Regions from separate parts of the Homo sapiens genome. Here region 1 is linked to region 2. The links come from fine-mapping of genetic effects on plasma protein levels. Region 2 holds a variant in brackets. A gene starts in the other region. All regions are shown on their reverse strands. Region 1 holds the start of SELE (selectin E). Region 2 overlaps KIRREL3 (kirre like nephrin family adhesion molecule 3).

Evidence for each region. PIP is the posterior inclusion probability: the model's chance that the variant is causal. The UK Biobank Pharma Proteomics Project read protein levels with antibody pairs (Olink). The fine-mapping took linkage between variants from a reference panel, not from the people measured, so its PIPs are less certain.
Region 1: SELE starts here. The variant in region 2 is fine-mapped to the plasma level of the SELE protein (UK Biobank, PIP above 0.99).

What each region holds. Positions count from the first base shown.
Region 1 is chr1:169,733,834-169,739,154 of GRCh38, reverse strand. It overlaps SELE (selectin E), which reads left to right and starts at 5,076. Exons shown (of 14, transcript NM_000450.2): 1 at 5,076-5,184.
Region 2 is chr11:126,429,653-126,434,987 of GRCh38, reverse strand. KIRREL3 (kirre like nephrin family adhesion molecule 3) reads left to right here. Exons shown (of 17, transcript NM_032531.4): 14 at 3,462-3,569. Among named protein-coding and RNA genes, the nearest start is that of ST3GAL4, 77 kb to the right of the region's middle. RefSeq lists a silencer at 336-501. The variant C/T (reference allele first, on the strand shown) is at 3,015.

The sequences.
Region 1 (5,321 bases), not on the chromosome of region 2:
TCTGCAAAGGTAACTTAGATGTTAGCAGAGTAGAGCTTTTTTATGGGAGAGAGGGAACTAAGGCTTTCAAAACTAAGCACTCAGGGGTAAAATAAGCCTTCGCAGAGGTAAGGGAACAGAGTGCCTCAGGAAGGCAGGAGGACACCACTGCCCCTGCTTCCCGGTCACATTCACCAAATATAACTTCACTCCTCGATAGATGCTTTTGCCACGTGTGGTTGTGGCCAGTGCTGCTTTCCACTAAACCCAATAATCTCCTGTCCACAGGGTGGCCTTGGTTAAAATTCTAACATTTGTCTTGGGGTCCCCAATCTCTTCTTTCTGGCTATCTCTCTGTCTCCCACTCCCTTTGCCATAAAAGTGAGAATGAGTGGGCCTGGGCACACAGCAAAACTGGTTAAAGTCTTTGATGCCTGATTAAAGGGTGTGGAGGAGAGGACAAGAGACTTCCAGGAAGAGACAATAAAGCCAGGAAGGGTGACACCTCAGAGATTAAATAGCACTGGTGGCAGACACCGGGGTGTGCCTGAGTTTGCACCGTCTTCTTTCCTCTTTTCATTCCCATCTATGTAGCGGATGCTTCCCCCATGCGAGAAACTGCCAAGAGGGTCCATGTGAGGCGAGGCTTGAAAACCGGCAATCCGGTAACAGCTAGCTACATCTTCAGAGCTTGGGAGATTCAGTGGAGCCTTGAAGCACCTCTAATCAGCCTGTTTCTTGGGGGTATATTTTGGATTATTTGAAGAGGGAGATGATATTCATAATATTCAACATGCCCAACTATTCAAATCTTACCCAATTTCCTCTTCAACTCCCCCTGATTTGCCCCCACCCTCAAAAAACAAGCAATTGCCTCTTATGAAATCCTGATAGGAAAAAGCAGGTGAAGAAGCTATAGTCTGGTTGTAATCCCACTCCCACGCAGCGCTGGCCCAGGGCCTCTCCACGAGAGGAAAGCTGGGTCTGTCTATGGCCCCTTCAGCAGCCCAGGTAGCCAGAGGGGAGCCCATCAGCTCCCAGTATCCATGTACCTGATTTGCAGTGACAACCTCGGGGGCAGGGACACAGAAAATACTGTGGGAGAATGCAGGTAATTGTAAGGATGAATGGATTTTGAATAACATACCTCTGGTTAAAACAAGTACATATATTATATACATATAAATTATATACATACATGTACATATTGTAAACCAAAAAGTAACTGAAGCATATCTCAACAGATTAGAGGTTTATTTTGTCCCAGGTAAAAGAAACACAAATCACTGTAGGATCTGTGACCTGCGCTTTTTCCAAAGAGAGTTTTGGGAACTTCCATCTTTAGAGGGGAAAGAGCAAGCAGGAGGGGAAGAAAATAAACGAAAGATGGGTTGGCAATGAGACAAGTGTTTACATTGTGGCAAGGCTCTGTAACACTCAGTGAGTCTACACTTTACATGTAAAAAGAAGGGACTAGAGGGAAATTATGCATGGATCTCATGCTCAGTACATCTACATTTTATATAAGATAAAGTAAGCATGTGAAATTACAGGTATTTGGGAACAAAAGGAAGGCAGTTTTTGCATGACTCATTTCCCAAGCTTAACTTTCCCTTTGGCATAGTGAATTTGAGGTCTCAAGATTCTATTCTTCTTTCACAGTATTTTACATATATTTATATATAATATATATAAAAATATCTATATTTATATATAAAATATAAAAATATCTATATTTATATATAAAATATAAAAATATCTATATATATAAAATATATAAATATATATAAATAATATATATATTCCACATATATAATATATTGTAATTATATATATATACTCTACATATATTATATATTATATATAGTCTACATTTAAGTTACTGTTACTCACCTATCTCTTCCACTCCTCATTTCTCTTATCCTTCGAATATTGGGATCTCTCCCTGAAGCTTTCTCAATTTAGAAATAATCAGTTTAGAATTTAGAATAATCAGTTTGCCCTTTGACCTTAGAGAAAATTTGCTTTTGAATCAGGAACTTCTGGGAACTGTGGCTTAGGGATCAACTTTACCTAGGCATGGCTCCACCTGCCTTGCTTGTTTTTTCCTTTGTCCACTTTCTCCCTGCCTATGCACCGGGGATCCAGGGTCTGTTCTCACTGCATCCTCTCCCTACTGCTCACTGTCCCTGGGGTCCCTTCCAGCCCCCATGTCTCAGAACCCAGGACACAGTTATCTCAGTGGAGAGCTGTGATGGTCAAGGATGTCTCAGGAAGAAGAGGGCAAGAAGAGTACAGGAAACTTGGGTAGAACAAGGAATCTCGGGGCATAACAACAAAAGAAATCATGGTTTGGAGTAGCAGGTAAGGGAGTGGGCTCTGGATATCAACTGCCTGGTTTCAACCCTTAGCTCTGTGCTTTTGAATGAGATAAAATCCCCAGATTCTCAATTTCCTCATCTGTAAAATGGGGATAATAGGAGTACCTATTTCATAGGCTGTTGTACGGATTGAATAATCAATAGGTGAACATACAAAATGCTCAGAATATGGCCTGGCACATAGTAAGCACTCAATAAATGTTAGAGATTATAATTGGGGGTCCAGGACATATATATGTAAGTAAAATAGAAACTTCATCACCACTGGGGCTATTTTTAGATATCTTTGAACTAATTTTAAAAAGGGGAAGAGATAAACTATAAACTTAGTTATGAAAAATTCGCAATAATAAAGTTAGTTATCTAGGGATGTTAACGACTAATTTCTATTAGCAATATAATTATTAGGTACTTTATTGATATCGAAGATAAATTGTTTTTTAAGATTTGGCTACTCTATACATTTGACCATGCTTTTTAAAAATAGCAGATTATGTATTCATACTTTATTAAAAATAAAATACATACAGATAATGTATTAACCCAACTTGACATTCTGCCCTAAAATCTAAATAAACACTATATGAGTGATTACTCTTCTGAATTTATTGAAGCAACAACCACATTGAGCTAAGTAAAGTGGGATAAAGAATTGGAATAATGTCAGTATCTGGATCATGTAAGAGAGTGGTAAGGTGGAGGGAATAAATTCTATGCTTTTTGATAGGGGTTGAATTAAATTCGTTAATTAAGTTATTTTTTTCTAATCAGTTGTCTTTTTTGGAATTTTTCTTCTCTTTTCTTGTTTTTTTTTTGGGTCTTGACATCTTTATGAACACAGAAAGACCAGTGCTAACAAGTAAAGAGAAAAACGAGGCTTTTACCACTACTCGTTCAGGTCTGCTGACAGTACATTTTTAGATAGACCTCCTATTTTGAAAGGCTGTAGATATAGAATATTAGCTTGACTTGAGCTCTGAAAACCTACAGAATATGGAAATTAAAATGATCCCCATTTACTGTTACCATCATTTAGATAGGGTAAGATGCAGAGATGGGGAATGTATACAATCACCCAGAAGAAATGTCAAAATGAAGAGCAGGAATATAGGATACCACATACATCTCCTTCTGTTGCATTTGGAAACAAATTTCTTTTCTTTTCTTTTTCTTTTTTTCTTTTTTTTTGAGATGGAGTCTTGCTCTGTCGCCCAGGCTGGAGTGCAATGGTGTGATTTCAGCTCACTGCAACCTCTGCCTCCTGGGTTCAAGCGATTCTCTTGCATCAGGCTCCCCAGTAGCTGGGATTACAGGCATGCGCCACTACACCCCGGCTAATTTTTGTATTTTTAGTAGAGACAGGGTTTCACCATATTGGCCACGCTGGTCTGGAACTCCTGACCTCAGGTGATCCACCCACCTCAGCCTCCCAAAGTGCTGGGATTACAGGCATGAGCCATCATGCCTGGCCTAGAGACAAGTTTCTTTAAACTGTATTCTTGTTACTATAAAGGTGAAAAAAAGGGAAATTGAAAAAAACTTTAAAATCCTGAAAATAATAATGAAGGATATAAAAATTATCCCAAATCCTGCCATCCAGAGTTAGTCACTGTTAACATTGTGGAAGAATTTTTATTCTTTGCACATTAACATTTCAAAAATTTTAAACAAAATTTTGACCAATTAAATATATATATATAGTTTTCCGTTTTATTTTTTTTCTTTTCTTTTCTTTTTTTTTTTTTTTTTTTAAGACAGAGTTTCACTCGTTTCCCAGGCTGGAGTGCACTGGCGTGATCTTGGCTCACTGCAACCTCCACTTCCCGGGTTCAAGCGATTCTCCTGCCTCAGCCTCCCGAGTAGCTGGGATTACAGGCATGCGCCACCATGCCCAGCTAATTTTGTATTTTTAGTAGAGATGGCGTTTCTCCATGTTGGTCAGGCTGGTCTTGAACTCCCGGCCTCAGGTGATCCGCCTGCCTCGGCCTCCCAAAGTGGTGGGATTACAGGCGTGAGCCACTGTGCCTGGCCTCCTTTTTATTTTTTTCACTGAACAAACCATGAAACTTTCCCAGATGTAAATATCTATTTCCCATTTTTCTTTTTTTAAAATAAGGCATTATTTTAACCATTTGAGTGTTAGATATTATTTTTAGATAATATTTTAATTTAGGCATAACTGCCGTGCAAAATCTGAAGATTAATATCTACCTTGTGAGTCATTCCTCTGTGAGACAGTGCATGTTAAATATGTTGAATTGGCAGGTGAAAAAGGAAGAAAAAATGAGTAGTGATTGGTTATCCACAGCTATGAATGAGAAATTGAAGGTAGTAGACTATGGATGACAAACCTATTCTTGGTTTCCTTCTGTTTCTGAAATTCTAATTACTACCACAACTACATGAGAGACACTACTAACAAGCAAAGTTTTACAACTTTTTAAAGACATAGACTTTATGTTATTATAATTAAAAATCATGCATTTTTGTCATATTAATAAAATTGCATATACGATATAAAGGCATGGACAAAGGTGAAGTAGCTTCAAGAGACAGAGTTTCTGACATCATTGTAATTTTAAGCATCGTGGATATTCCCGGGAAAGTTTTTGGATGCCATTGGGGATTTCCTCTTTACTGGATGTGGACAATATCCTCCTATTATTCACAGGAAGCAATCCCTCCTATAAAAGGGCCTCAGCCGAAGTAGTGTTCAGCTGTTCTTGGCTGACTTCACATCAAAACTCCTATACTGACCTGAGACAGAGGCAGCAGTGATACCCACCTGAGAGATCCTGTGTTTGAACAACTGCTTCCCAAAACGGTAAGTGCAGAACGCTTTATAAGGGCAGCCTCGGGCCATGAAACACAGATATGCAAAAGGCCTTCTAATAAAAACCACATCTGTACAAGCTCTTATTGTATTGTAGCTAAAACCTGTCTTTTCTCTTTGACCTAAAT
Region 2 (5,335 bases):
CCATCCTTTCTCTTCAGGAGCCCTGACTCCTGGCCTCTGGGGTCAGCTGGCCCCTGTCCTGACTGCCTTCTGCTTCCAGGCTCTCTCCGACCCTTCCCGCTTCTCCACATCATCACCAGCTTGGCCACTGCTTCCCAGGACACCGGGGGCCCCCAGCCCCTGCTGTGGCTTGTGCAATCCATGCTTGCTGTTTGCCACCCCTCCCTACTCCTGCAGTCCCCATGGAAGTGTCATCTCACCCCAAGCTGAGGCTGCAGGGCAGCGCCTCCCTCCCCAGGCACACGCAGCAAAGCAGTCATCAGGCCCCCTGGGCGGAGTTGCTCTCAACCCCACCCCGAGCAGAAAACCAGAAAAGAGAATCAGGACCAGCAAGCCAGGCTCTATGGCCATGCTGAAGACTTGAGTGGTCCTCCATCCCAGGCCTCCTGCCACACTGGCCCCTGGCCTCTGTTACCTCCTCAACAAGCTCCACGTGGGATCCTCATGCCCCTGCCTCTGCCCCTCCTGGCAGACATGCCCCTATCAGAGCACCAACCCAGGGCACAGGTTGCTCACAGAGGCCCCTGCAGCCCACACTGGGGCAACCCAGAAAGCTGCCAGCCTCCCGCTGCCTTCTCCCCGGGTCCATGCTAGTGCTGAGGGTGGTGTCTCCTGTCTCCGTGTCTCCTGTGTCTGCTGACACTCATCCAGAGCTCCCCAACACCTTCCCCCCTCGGTGGCTCCTGGTGCCTGGCACACCTCCTTGGATGGAGGGGAGGCTGAGTGGGGACAGCCCCTCCCTCCAGTCCCTCTCCAGGAGCCATGCAGGGAAGGCTCTGTGCAGAGAGGAGGGGCCTGCACATCGCCCTAGGCCAAACCTCAGGAAGCCAGGCAAGGAGGAAACACACACAGGCAGGCTGGGGACTGGGAAGAGATGGCACCCCGGGGCACTCGCCCCCACAGGACCCCCTGCTCTCCCCCTGCCCACCTCCCTGGTGACCGTTGTCCAGCTAAGAGGGCACCCCTCCCCCAGCCGTCAGCAGCGTGTGGAAACGTGGGCTGGGGATCCCAGGATCGGAAGGCACCTTCAATGCTGCTGCCCAGCTCTCCAGGGTGCAGACAAGGCACTGAGGCCCAGAGGTGTTAAGAGCCTTCCATGGACATGCTTTGGCTCTGAGTTCCGCTGAGACAAGCCCTGTGTTTTTCCAAGGAAACTTACTAGGAATCTGAGGAGAAACCAACCCAAATCAATCCAATTCAAAAGCAGAGAACCAATGAGCTGCCACAGCAGTTTCCCTTTCTTCATGGAACTAAACCTAGAGACGTTGTCGTCTATTGGTCAAGGCAAGCTCTGCTGAGGCCCAGCCCCTTTTCTCAGTCTGACTGTTGAACCAATGCGAGCACCTCCCGTTTCAATCCCTAAGTGTCCACCATTCCACCTCCTCTTGGTCCCCTCCCTGTCACCCCTACAGCTGTCCTGGCCACTAATTGGTAGGTAACCAATGGCTTCGTGTGCAAGTCCTGGGGTGGCAAAGGGATGTGCCAGCTTAACCAGCAACACTGCCAGCCAGGGGCGCCAGCTCCCTCTGGCCGGAGGGCAAATGGCTGCCACCCTACCCCCACCCCTTGATACCTCCTCCCAGCAGCATCTTCAGAGGCCAGGGTTTGAGGTCTTTCTCCTCCCTTTAAAGAAAAAGACAGCAAGAGGCTTACAACCCAGAACTGATACCTAGCTGTCCCCACTCGCCCACACTGACGAACGCAGGGTAGGCTGGGGAGGGGCTCAGTCTTTCAAAGGAACTTTCCTGGCCTTTAAGACTGTGAACTGCTGATCGGGAACGATGGCTCACGCCTGTAATCCCAGCACTTTCGGAGGCTGAGGCGGGCGGATCACCTGAGGTCAGGAGTTTGAGACCAGCCTGGCCAACATGGTGAAACCCTATCTCTACTAAAAATACAAAAATTAGCCAGGCATGGTGGCATGTGCCTGTAATCCCAGCTATTCGGGAGACTGAGGCAGGAGAATCGCTTGAACCCAGGAGGCGGAGGTTGCAGTGAACTGAGATCGTGCCACTGCCCTCCAGCCTGGGTGTCACAGCCAGACTCCATCCCAAAAATAAAAGACCGTGAACTGCTGGTGACCCCTTCCTGGGTAACAACAACAGCAAACACCAAACAGGGCTGGGTGCCAGGCTCTGCTCCAAGGCCTCTGCCCACATTCACCCAGCTCAAGCCCATAACAACCCTCAGAGGGGCCGGTACCATTATCCCCATCCTACAGATATAAGAGAGGCAAAGTCAGTTGCTCAGCAGAAGGGATGGAGCCAGGACTCGGAGCAGCAGCAGTCTGGGCGGTACCGAGCACATGAGATGTGGGGGATCTCACATGTCACTCTGTGGGTGGAGCTGGACGGGGTGGGAGTGGGGTGAGTGGAGGGGTGGGAGCAGTGAGAGGAGACCTGGATTGACCCTGGCTGGGCAGCTCCTGTGTGTCCTTGGCCAAATCACTTGACTTCTCCGGACCTCAGTGAGAGCCCCAAGCTCTCCCTGCCCCAGCATTCTCTAGTTCTATTCCTGATGGATTCCTCAAGGCCCTAAATCATGTGCTCCGACCCCACTTGCAGCTGTAGAAGGGCCAAGGCTGTGTGGAAGATCACCCCCGACTCTATCCTTACCCTCCCTGTCCCTACCCCCACTCGGCTTGGGCAGGAGACAGGCCACAGAGACTCAGCAGGGGTGAGGGCTTGCCTGCCCAGTGTGTGGGCCTCTCTTGCCAGGAGGGGTGCAAGGATGCTCAGAGGGGCAGCCTTGAGGGAGAAGCTGCAGACCTGGAGATGGAGGGAAAGGGGCCTCTCTCCTTAGAGAGGTGGCAGTGGAGAAGCTGTAACCCTGCTCCCTGGACCCTGAGACTTGGACACCTGAGGGCCACAACTGATGCCCAGCAGACCTGCGGGGAAGCTACTTAGACCTGCAAACACTAAGAGCCGGATGTCCTCTATATTCACCCGAGAAAGGGAAGGGAAGGAGAGAACATA[C/T]GGAACAAACAAGGGCAGTGACCATAGTCATTTTTCAAAAAAAGCCAGGGCCTATGACTCACTGGCCGCTGTGTGATAGAGCATTCCTGTTTAATGCCAGAGAGAGCTCCATCGTGCCAGCCCCACCCCTCATCTCCGGTCTTCCTGTCCCCTGGCCCTCCCTTCTCCGTGTCTGCCTGCCTCGCTCTCCTTCCTCTGCCCTTTACCTCAGTTCCCCTGCCCTCTCCTCCACCCACCAAGCCCCTGTGTCCTCCACCCTGGTCTTTGCAGTCCCAGCTAGAGCTGACCCCAGTTGGACTCGGCCTGTGCCTGCCCAGGCCCCACTGAGGCATTTCCCAGGAGGGCCCCATGTGGCAGGGGCTGCCCCCGCAGGAACGGGGTGAGATCATGGGGGGATAGTAGGCCATTCCCCATCCGTCATCAGCTGTGCCCGCTTCTCTCCCACAGAGTCTGTGCCGATGGCCGTCATCATTGGGGTGGCCGTAGGAGCTGGTGTGGCCTTCCTCGTCCTTATGGCAACCATCGTGGCGTTCTGCTGTGCCCGTTCCCAGAGAAGTACGGGAGGGAGATCCGGGATCTCAGGGAGGGGGACAGAGAAAAAGGCCAGGCTTAGGCTGCCCCGGAGAGCAAGTAAGCAGGAGTGCAATGAACAGGGGTCCTAACAGTGCTGTGAGCTCCTGGGGCAGGGAGTGGGTCTGATGCATCGGTGTATGTGAGCCTGGGCAACATGGCGCCTGGCAGAGTGGGCGCTAGGCTGAGGTTGACCTGGACTAGACTGAACTTCATCTGCAGGGCAGCCAGCATTTTGGATTGAACACATAGCTCTTTCAGTCAGGAACTGTACAGAAAGATAGGGGGAAAAGCGGTTTGTGGTTTGATCCTTGCTCTACAAGAGCTGTTAGTCTAGAGAGACCCCATCTCTACAACAAAATAAAAATAAAGAGCTGCTAGTCTCACCAGAAAAGCAGGTCACTCACACAGCTGTGGGGGAGTGGGTGGGGAAGCAATAAAGGAATTGCTTTGAGAAAACTTTTAAAGGTCTTCAGTGATTACCAATAAAATTCTAGTGTTTGTGCACGCTTGAAGAATTGCGTGCACCGAGGAGATAACGTGTGAGAGATTGGATGGCAGAGAACAGGTGAAGACAATGGAGACACAGTGTTCCAGTCCCACCTCTTCTGCCACATGACCCTGGGCCAGCCACAGTTATTCCAGGCCTGTCTCCTCATTTATAATGAGGATATGACTCTGATGGCCCCATCTGGCACTAACATTATATAAGTGTAATGCAAAAAATGAATCACCAGAATGGGTCTGCTCCTCTGCCACTCGGCAGCCTGCACATGTTTGAAGAAAGCTGTTCCCCTTGCATTTTCTGCACTCCGAGCTAAGCAGCCTTGGCTCTCAAGACCACCCCAGCAATGATGTGGTCTCAGGACCTCCATCACCACCGTCTCAGTGGAAATTATAGGGAAGCATACAAATATATACACATACGCATATATACACATATATATACGGTTTTTTTTTATATAGGGTCTCTCTCTTTTGGCCAGGCTGAAGTGCAGTGACACGATCTCAGCTCACTGCAACCTCCGCCTCCCAGGTTCAAGCGATTCTCGTGCCTAAGCCTCCTGAGTCGCTGGGATTACAGGCGTGTGCCATCATGCCTTGCTATTTTTTTAATTTTTTGCAGAGACAGGATTTCACCATGTTGCCCAGGCTGGTCTCGAACTCCTGGCCTCAAGTGGTCCGCCTTCCTCGGCCTCCCAATGTGCTGGGATTACAGGCGTGAGCCACCGCACCAGCTCCTCAAGAATTTCCTTTTTTTTTTTTGAGACAGAGTCTCATCCTGTTGCCCAGGCTGGAGTGCAGTGGCACAATCTCGGCTTACCGCAGCCGCTGCCTCCCGGGTTCATTCAAGCGAGTCTCATGCTCAGCCTCCCGAGTAGCTGGCATTACAGGCACCCACCACCACGCCCAGCTAATTTTTGGATTTTTAATAGAGACGGGGTTTCACCATGTTGGCCAGGCTGGTGTCAAACTCCTGACCTCGTGATCTGCCCACCTCGGCCTCCCAAAGTGCTGGGATTACAGGCGTGAGCCACCGCACCCAGCCAAGAATTTTCTAACAGAGCTCTCCAACTAGAAACAGCCTGCCTCCTGCAGAAGTAGCAGTAAAGCTTCCATCACGGAGGCGTCGACAGAGAAGCTGCCCACTGCCTCAGGGGCGTTTCTCTTTGGATGGGGGTTGGCCATGGGCACTTTGAGGTCCTTTCCAACACTGAGATTTATGGTTCTATGAATGGAGGGATTGGAGC